Homo sapiens: one gene and its partner. The protein of the gene in region 1 purifies or fractionates together with the protein of each later gene. This does not show direct contact. Each region holds a gene or a part of one and is shown in the gene's direction. Other genes may lie near its edges.

Region 1 (3,243 bases):
CACCGAGTCCTGCAGTGCGATCTCCTACCTGGCTGGGGCGCCACCCTTCCTCATCTGCTCCTGGTGCCAGCCCCTCCTGCCACCCTTCCCCATCCACTCCTGGTGCCGGCCCCTCCTGCCCTCCCGTCTCCACCTGTTCAGTGGCCCAAGGAAGCATCAGCAGGAAAACCTGACCTCTCCTCTGCCTGCAGGGCCCTCCTGCCCTGCTGTGAGGGAGTCACGCCTGCCCTCCCCGAGCCTCCATGAGCCTTCCTATACTTGGTGACGGTGTACGTCTCTCTGCAGCCCCTTGTGCTCGGTCTGTGCTGGGCAGTGTTTCATGAGGTGCCTGGACACCTTCCCTGCCCTTTGCCCTGGTCTTCTGCCTCACTCGTAGGGTATTAGGCTGTCCTTGACCTCCCTGCCCCTCCCAGGCTGCTTGCTCCTCTGCCCACGGGAGCTGCAGTTCCTGGCTCCCGTGGGCCCAGGCCACGAGCCGATCTCCCTGGTTAGGAGTGGGTGCAATGGGTCTGTGGCCTCCTCGGTTCCCCGAGCACCTCCGCCCATCCTGGGACATTCTAACCGCTGACCTGCCCCTTCTAGAATGGTGCCCAGAAGTCCTGGGACTTCATGAAGACGCATGACAGGTGAGAGCCTGGCCCAGCCTGGCCACTGGGGAAGCCCCAGACTGATGTCTACGGGGACACTGGGCCCAGGGCGAAGGTGCCCTCTCCTCCCTGACGTTGCTGTTCCCTGCGTGGGCTCCAAAAGTCCCTTCTCTCTGCCCGGCCTCTGGGTTTCCTATCCCTGAGGGGTCAGCCTGAGGCCTGGGGGCTGAGTCAGGTCTTTGCTCAGGCCACCGGGACCATGATGGTGGGCAGGCCCTCTCAGGGCAGGGAGAGGCTGTCCTGGAGCCTTTGCCCCTAGCATCCAGGGTCTGGGCTGGATGGCGACGTGGCTCGAGGAGTGTGGCTGGTGGGCAGCTGCTCAGTGAGGGCCAAACGTCCTGTCAGTCACCCGGCCTCAGCTGCGAGCACCCTGACCTACTCAGCTGCCCGTGTGTCCTTCCCTGCCCCCCGCCTCCCATCCTGCCAGCTGGAATACAGCAGGTCTGGGTCCTGGCCAGACTGTGACCCTGGAAAGCTCTGGTCCCGCCTGGGCCTCAGCCATCCTATCTGAGCAAGGGGCCTGACCTCCCTGGGCTGCTGGCAAGGAGGTGGGATGGCCACGCTGGGAACAGAAAGATGGGAGGTGGGGCCCCACGAGGGCCAGTGGAGTGCTTCTGTGCTGAGCCCCTCCCCCCGTACACAGCGTGACCGTTCTCTTATTCAACTCTTCTCGGAGGAGCCTGGTGTTGGTGAAGCAGTTCCGGCCAGGTGAGGCCAGCTGGGGTGGGAAGGGGATCTGCAGGGTCACCTTCAGGTCCCTGTGGTCCTGAGGGTCTGAATACAGATGTGGGAGGGGGCTCCAGGGGAAGCTGAGGCCCTGGGAGGGGGCTTGGCTGTGTGGGTGACCTGGAGGTGGCCACCACGTGGCTGTGAGCACAGTCTGGCTTCTTCCCACGCAGCTGTGTATGCGGGTGAGGTGGAGCGCCGCTTCCCAGGGTCCCTAGCAGCTGTAGACCAGGACGGGCCTCGGGAGCTACAGCCAGCCCTGCCCGGCTCAGCGGGGGTGACAGTTGAGCTGTGTGCCGGCCTCGTGGACCAGCCTGGGCTCTCGCTGGAGGAAGTGGCTTGCAAGGAGGCTTGGGAGGAGTGTGGCTACCACTTGGCCCCCTCTGATCTGCGCCGGGTCGCCACATACTGGTGAGTGGGACCAGGCCCTCAGGCCTGTGGTGTGACTCAGGAGATGGGAGAGAGTGAGGGCCCCGTCCCTGGGAGTGTGCAAGCAGGATGGATTCCTCCTTGTTTTCCAACATGGGATTAGGGGAGGGTTGGACCGAATGCGCCTCAGCTCCTAAGCCAGGCCAGAATCTGGGCTCTTGGGGCTCTCTCTGCAGCGTCTCGGCCCCATGCCCCCAGCCTGCGGCCCCCAGCTGTGTGAGGCAGGCCGGGTGACAGCTGCTGCTGACAGGTGCCTCTACTTCCTGTAGGATTAAGACCGGGCGCTGGGGGTGGGGGTGACTCACAGCTCTGTTCTCAGAGGGTGGCTTAGGAATGAGGGAGAAGCTGTGTCCTGGGCTGGAGAAGGGGTGGCTCCAGCTCTCCTGGGGAACAGGCACTAGAGCCTGCGCTTTGGGACCTGACCCACCAAACTCGAGGCACCAACTCTTGCCCCGCGAGGGCTGCCAGCTGGGGTGGGGTTGCCTTCCCAGGACTAGATGTTGGTATGAAGCCCATCCACTTCCCCAGGGACGCTACGATGGGCTCCTGACCCCAGCTGAGGTCTTGGGGAAGGAGGAGGGTGTCACAGACCCCCACCCCCACCAGCTGAGCACCAGCCTCCACAGCCTCCTCCAGAGGCCAGGGCCCGCTCCACTGGGAGAAGCACCGGAAGTCTCTGCACCTGTCAGCCTGGCACATGGGCCACTCAGGGTTGAGCCTGGGGCCCTCCCACCTCAGCAGCCTCAAGGACTTCACCTGGGCACGTTCCTGGCTGGATGGGTGGACTCCCAAGTTAAAGGCAGCATTTCCACGCTGGGCCAGGCACGGTGGCTCACGCCTGTAATCCCAGCACTTTGGGAGGCCGAGGCAGGCGGATCACCTGAGGTCAGGAGTTCGAGACCAGCCTGACCACATGGAGAAACCCCGCCTCTGCTAAAAGTACAAAATTAGCCAGGCGTGGTGGCAGGAGCCTGTAATTCCAGCTACTCAGGAGACTGAGGCAGGAGAATCGCTTGAACCCAGGAGGCGGAGGTTGCGGTGAGCCTGAACCCAGGAGGCGGAGGTTGCGGTGAGCCGAGATCGCGCCATTGCACTCTAGCCTGGGCAACAAGAGCGAAACTCTGTCTCAACAAAACAGAATTTCCATGCCGAAGGGTGGACTTGGGTGTGAAGGATGGGCCTTGGTTTTCTGCAGGTGTCTACCCCGTGGTGGGCCACGCCCACTGTGCCCCCAGCTCCCCAGCCCATAGTACTGAGCACAGCCGGGAGGCATGGGAGGGGCTGGAGTCCCCTTGGTCCCCCTGGAGGAGGTGGGCCTGGGCAGGTTCCTGGCAGAGGGACCGCACAGGCTCTCAGGGCAAGTGGTCAAGCAGCCCTGGCCGCGGTGGTTCTACTGGTACAGCCTCTGGGCCACAGCCTGATTGTGAGGGTGCTGGGGAGC
Region 2 (3,806 bases), on another chromosome or scaffold:
AGACTCCAGTTTCAGAACTTCTGCTAAAATGGAATGTAGGTAGAGTAAGAGAAAACAATAAAGTTCTGTATTTATATAACAGTTTACTGTTGAAAATGAACTTTAAAATACATTATTTGATCCTTTAACAACCTTAAGAAATTGGCTGTATGGATTTCTTTATTCTTAACTTAGATTAAATAATTGTCTAGGAAATTAAAAGGCTTATTCAGGGTCGCATCCCTAATAAGAAGCTTATCTCTTGAGTGGGCAAATACTGTGCTTACTGAATGTCTGCTATGTATTAGGCCCTGTGGCAGGCGGTGGGTAAGGATTGCCCTTGAAAATGGTAGAGTTGAGTAGAGCAGTCAGATTTGTAAATATTTAGTGTGAACCTACACATATTTAGTCTTCATTCAGAGCTCTGTTTAACTGTGCCATGCTGGTTTTTAGGGAATATGGAGGAAGAGTATTTCATTAAAACTAAAATATTAATATATACTAACTTTCAGGTTTAAAAAATAACCTGATCTTTTGACTTATATAGAAGTTGAGTATCATCACAAAACATGATTTGTAGGGAATGGGCATGGTTTGTAGGAAGAGAAAGTTCAAGTTGAATGCCAAAAATAATTCATATCCTTTATAGTGTAAAACATTGGAGAGGGCAGCTAAGTGAAAATTGTGACTGTTTAAATTGTTTTTTGGGCTTTTTACAATTTTTTTTTTCTAAAGGTAGACATTATTGACATAAATGTAAAGGTTAATTTTGTGATTTTTGTTTTTAAGCATTTTTTTGAGATAACTGATGACCAATTCGACTTCCATACATACTGCATGAGAAAGATGACCCTTCGTGCCTATGTTGACCTTTTGAGATTAGAAGATATACTCAGAAGACATGCCTTTTATTTCAAGGCTGCTAGATCAGCGATTGAAATATACTTGAAATTGTATGATAATCCCTTAACCAATGAAAGCAAACAACAAGAAATAAACTCAGGTAACTGAATAGGAACTTAAAAGATTTTAAAAGGACACTAAATTTCAGAATGCCATTAGCGTAAACAATACCTAGAAAAATATTAATATATTGTCTGTTGGAGTTGAAGACAAACATTAGATAACTCATATGCCAAAAAACAAAAATGTTGCAGAGAGAGTTAAAAAAAGTGGGATGATATTCTGTAGCTGATGGTTCTAAATTACTTTAATGGAACAACTTAGAATTTTTTTTATTTTTGTCTTCAGAAAGACCAATTTAAGAACTGGGTATGGTGGTTCACGCCTGTAATCACAGCATTTTGGGAGGCCAAGGCAGGCAGATCATTTGAGGCCAGGAGTTCAAGACCAGTCTGGGCAACATAGCATGACCCCTGTCGCTACAAAAATTTTAAAAAGACGAGTTTAGGAAACATAGAAATGTCTGTGGACTAGTTTTTTTCTTTCTTTTTTAAAAAATTGTAACTGAAAATAGCTTTGAGCTCCTTAGGAAAAAATATATAATCTTAAAATTTCTAGTTCCTACTTTATTAAAAATAAGAATATCAGTGAGAATATCTGTACAGTTTTTTATTCACTAGAATGTTAATATCTAGGAATATTTGAGAAATAGTTAGCATGAAATGAGCCTAGGTAACTATCTCAGATATTCCTAGGTAGCTGTTCATTTCTAATATTTATATAGTATTTAGAGATCACAGGTGTTTATATGTATTATCTCACTTATTCTTGAAAGACTTGATACTGAGAAGGACAAAGTGATTTGCCTGGAGTCATATATTGTGTAGGAGGCAGAACTGGGCTACTATTGGTCAATTTTAGTTAATGCAACATTTACTGGCTGTCCTTTGTGTGCCCAATTTTGTTCTAGTCACTGGGGATACACTTTCTAAAAGCTTTTATATGGGTTGCCTCTGCATCCCTCCTTGCCCAGACAAAAAACAGAAAAAAAAAGTATACAGCTGGCCCTCCATTTTTGTGGGTTCCACATGGGTGGAACAAATCATAAATATGTTTTTTTAAATTGCATCTGTACTGAACATGTCCAGACTTTTTTTCTTGTCATTATTAGTATTTCCTGAACAATGCAGTGTAACAACTATTTACATAGCATTTACATTATTTTAGGCATACCTATAGACCATAATATAATTTATGAAAAAGTGAAGTCATTATATGCAACTTAAAGCAAAAGGAAGGTGAAAGATTTAAAGCTGATCTAATTAAAAGTATACAGGAGGATGTACATAGGTTGTATGGAAATACTGTGTCATTTTATATCACAGGCTTGAGTATCAGTGGACTTTGTGGGGGTGGGGGTCATGAACCAATCCCCCACTGATACCAAGGGACAACCATACTAACAGTATGTATTACAGAAGAATATGAAGAAAATGCAAACATTGGCTCAGAATTTTGTTCATTTGGATATTTATAGAAAACTTGTCAGCCAAAGAATTGAAGAAAATGCTTAGCAAGCAGAGAAGAGCTCAGAAAAAGGCTAAACTAGAAGAAGAAAGAAAGCATGCAGAAAGAGAACGTCAACAGAAAAATCAAAAGAAAAAAAGAGATGAAGAAGAAGAAGAAGCCAGTGGCCTTAAGGAAGAACTTATACCTGAAAAATTAGAAAGGGTGAGATGGGTTTTACTATCTTTGTTATTTGGTAAAATTTATGCTATTTGGTTCCGTTCTGACAGTTAACATGATTTATTTAAATCTGTAAGAAGCCATTTGAAATATTTCAAGGTTTTTATAATAGCCGTCAATTATCTTTGAGTGACAGTATACAAATTTTGGCTAATGCAAGTTATACATAGAATTGCAATTGTGGTAGGCAGAGTAATGGCCCTGCAAAGGTGTCTGTGTTCTGGTCCCCCCAGCCTGTGAATATGTAACCTTACATGGCAAGGGAGAATTAAGGTGGGAGATGGAATTTATGGTTGTAATGAATTGACCTCAAGATAGATTAGCCTGGATTGTCCATGTGGTCCTAATATCGTCAAAAGGGGCCTTAAAAGTTGAGGATGCCAGCAGCAGAGGTCAGAATGATGCAATGTGAGGAGGACTCAACCTGCTGTTGCTGGCTTTGAAGATGGAAGGAGGGTGCCCCAAGCTAAGGAGTGTGGGCAGTCTAGAGAGGCTGAAAAAGGCATTGAACGGATTCCCCCTTCGAATCTCCAAAGGAAATGCAGTCCTGCTGACACCTTGATTGTAAGCCCAGTGAGACTGTGTTGGGCTTTTAACCTATAAGAACTATAACATAATAAGTGTGTTGTTTTAAGTCAATAAATATTTGGTAATTTGTTACAGCAGCAATACAATTGTCCATTACATATGGAATCATTTTACCTTATATGTCTTACTAGAAATGTTGTAGCTACAAAGAGATAGCACCTCCAGGATTTTCTCAAGTGTTAATAGTTGTTTTGGGATCAGATTTAAGGAAATATTTAGTTTTCTGGTTTATTCACTGTAAGTCTAGTACAGTTGGCCTTTGAACAACATAGGTTTGAATTTTGAGGGTCCAGCAAAGGATGGTTTGATAATTTTAGAAAGATGTTTGGGTTAAAAAATGTCCAGATAACAGAAGAATTAACTTCTCACCAAGAGCTGGCAGAGAAGTTCCAGATGCCATTGAGAAAATCATTGAGGAGAAGAGGTATCTGCCTGAACAGGTTTTTAATGTAGAAAAAAAGTGCTCTATCACAGGAAAAAATAAAAGCCACAAAGGACATCTATTAGTAAGGAAAATAAGCGAACACCAGGATTTAAGGCAGGAAGGGATAGGCTAACTGTACCATTTTGTGCAAATGCAGTTGGGATTA

The links.
Region 2: the proteins of NUDT14 (region 1) and NAA16 fractionate together in Homo sapiens (co-fractionation; one large-scale study listed by BioGRID). This does not show direct contact.

The regions. Positions count from the first base shown.
Region 1 is NC_000014.9:105,175,075-105,178,317, reverse strand, and holds part of NUDT14 (uridine diphosphate glucose pyrophosphatase NUDT14), read left to right. Parts: intron 1-582; coding exon 583-626; intron 627-1,290; coding exon 1,291-1,355; intron 1,356-1,546; coding exon 1,547-1,784; intron 1,785-2,330; coding exon of another isoform or gene 2,331-2,352; exon of another isoform or gene 2,353-2,830; intron 2,831-3,243. UniProt on the Homo sapiens protein: Hydrolyzes UDP-glucose to glucose 1-phosphate and UMP and ADP-ribose to ribose 5-phosphate and AMP. The physiological substrate is probably UDP-glucose. Poor activity on other substrates such as ADP-glucose, CDP-glucose, GDP-glucose and GDP-mannose.
Region 2 is NC_000013.11:41,366,671-41,370,476, forward strand, and holds part of NAA16 (N-alpha-acetyltransferase 16, NatA auxiliary subunit), read left to right. Parts: intron 1-768; coding exon 769-982; intron 983-2,419; coding exon 2,420-2,613; intron 2,614-3,806. UniProt on the Homo sapiens protein: Auxillary subunit of the N-terminal acetyltransferase A (NatA) complex which displays alpha (N-terminal) acetyltransferase activity.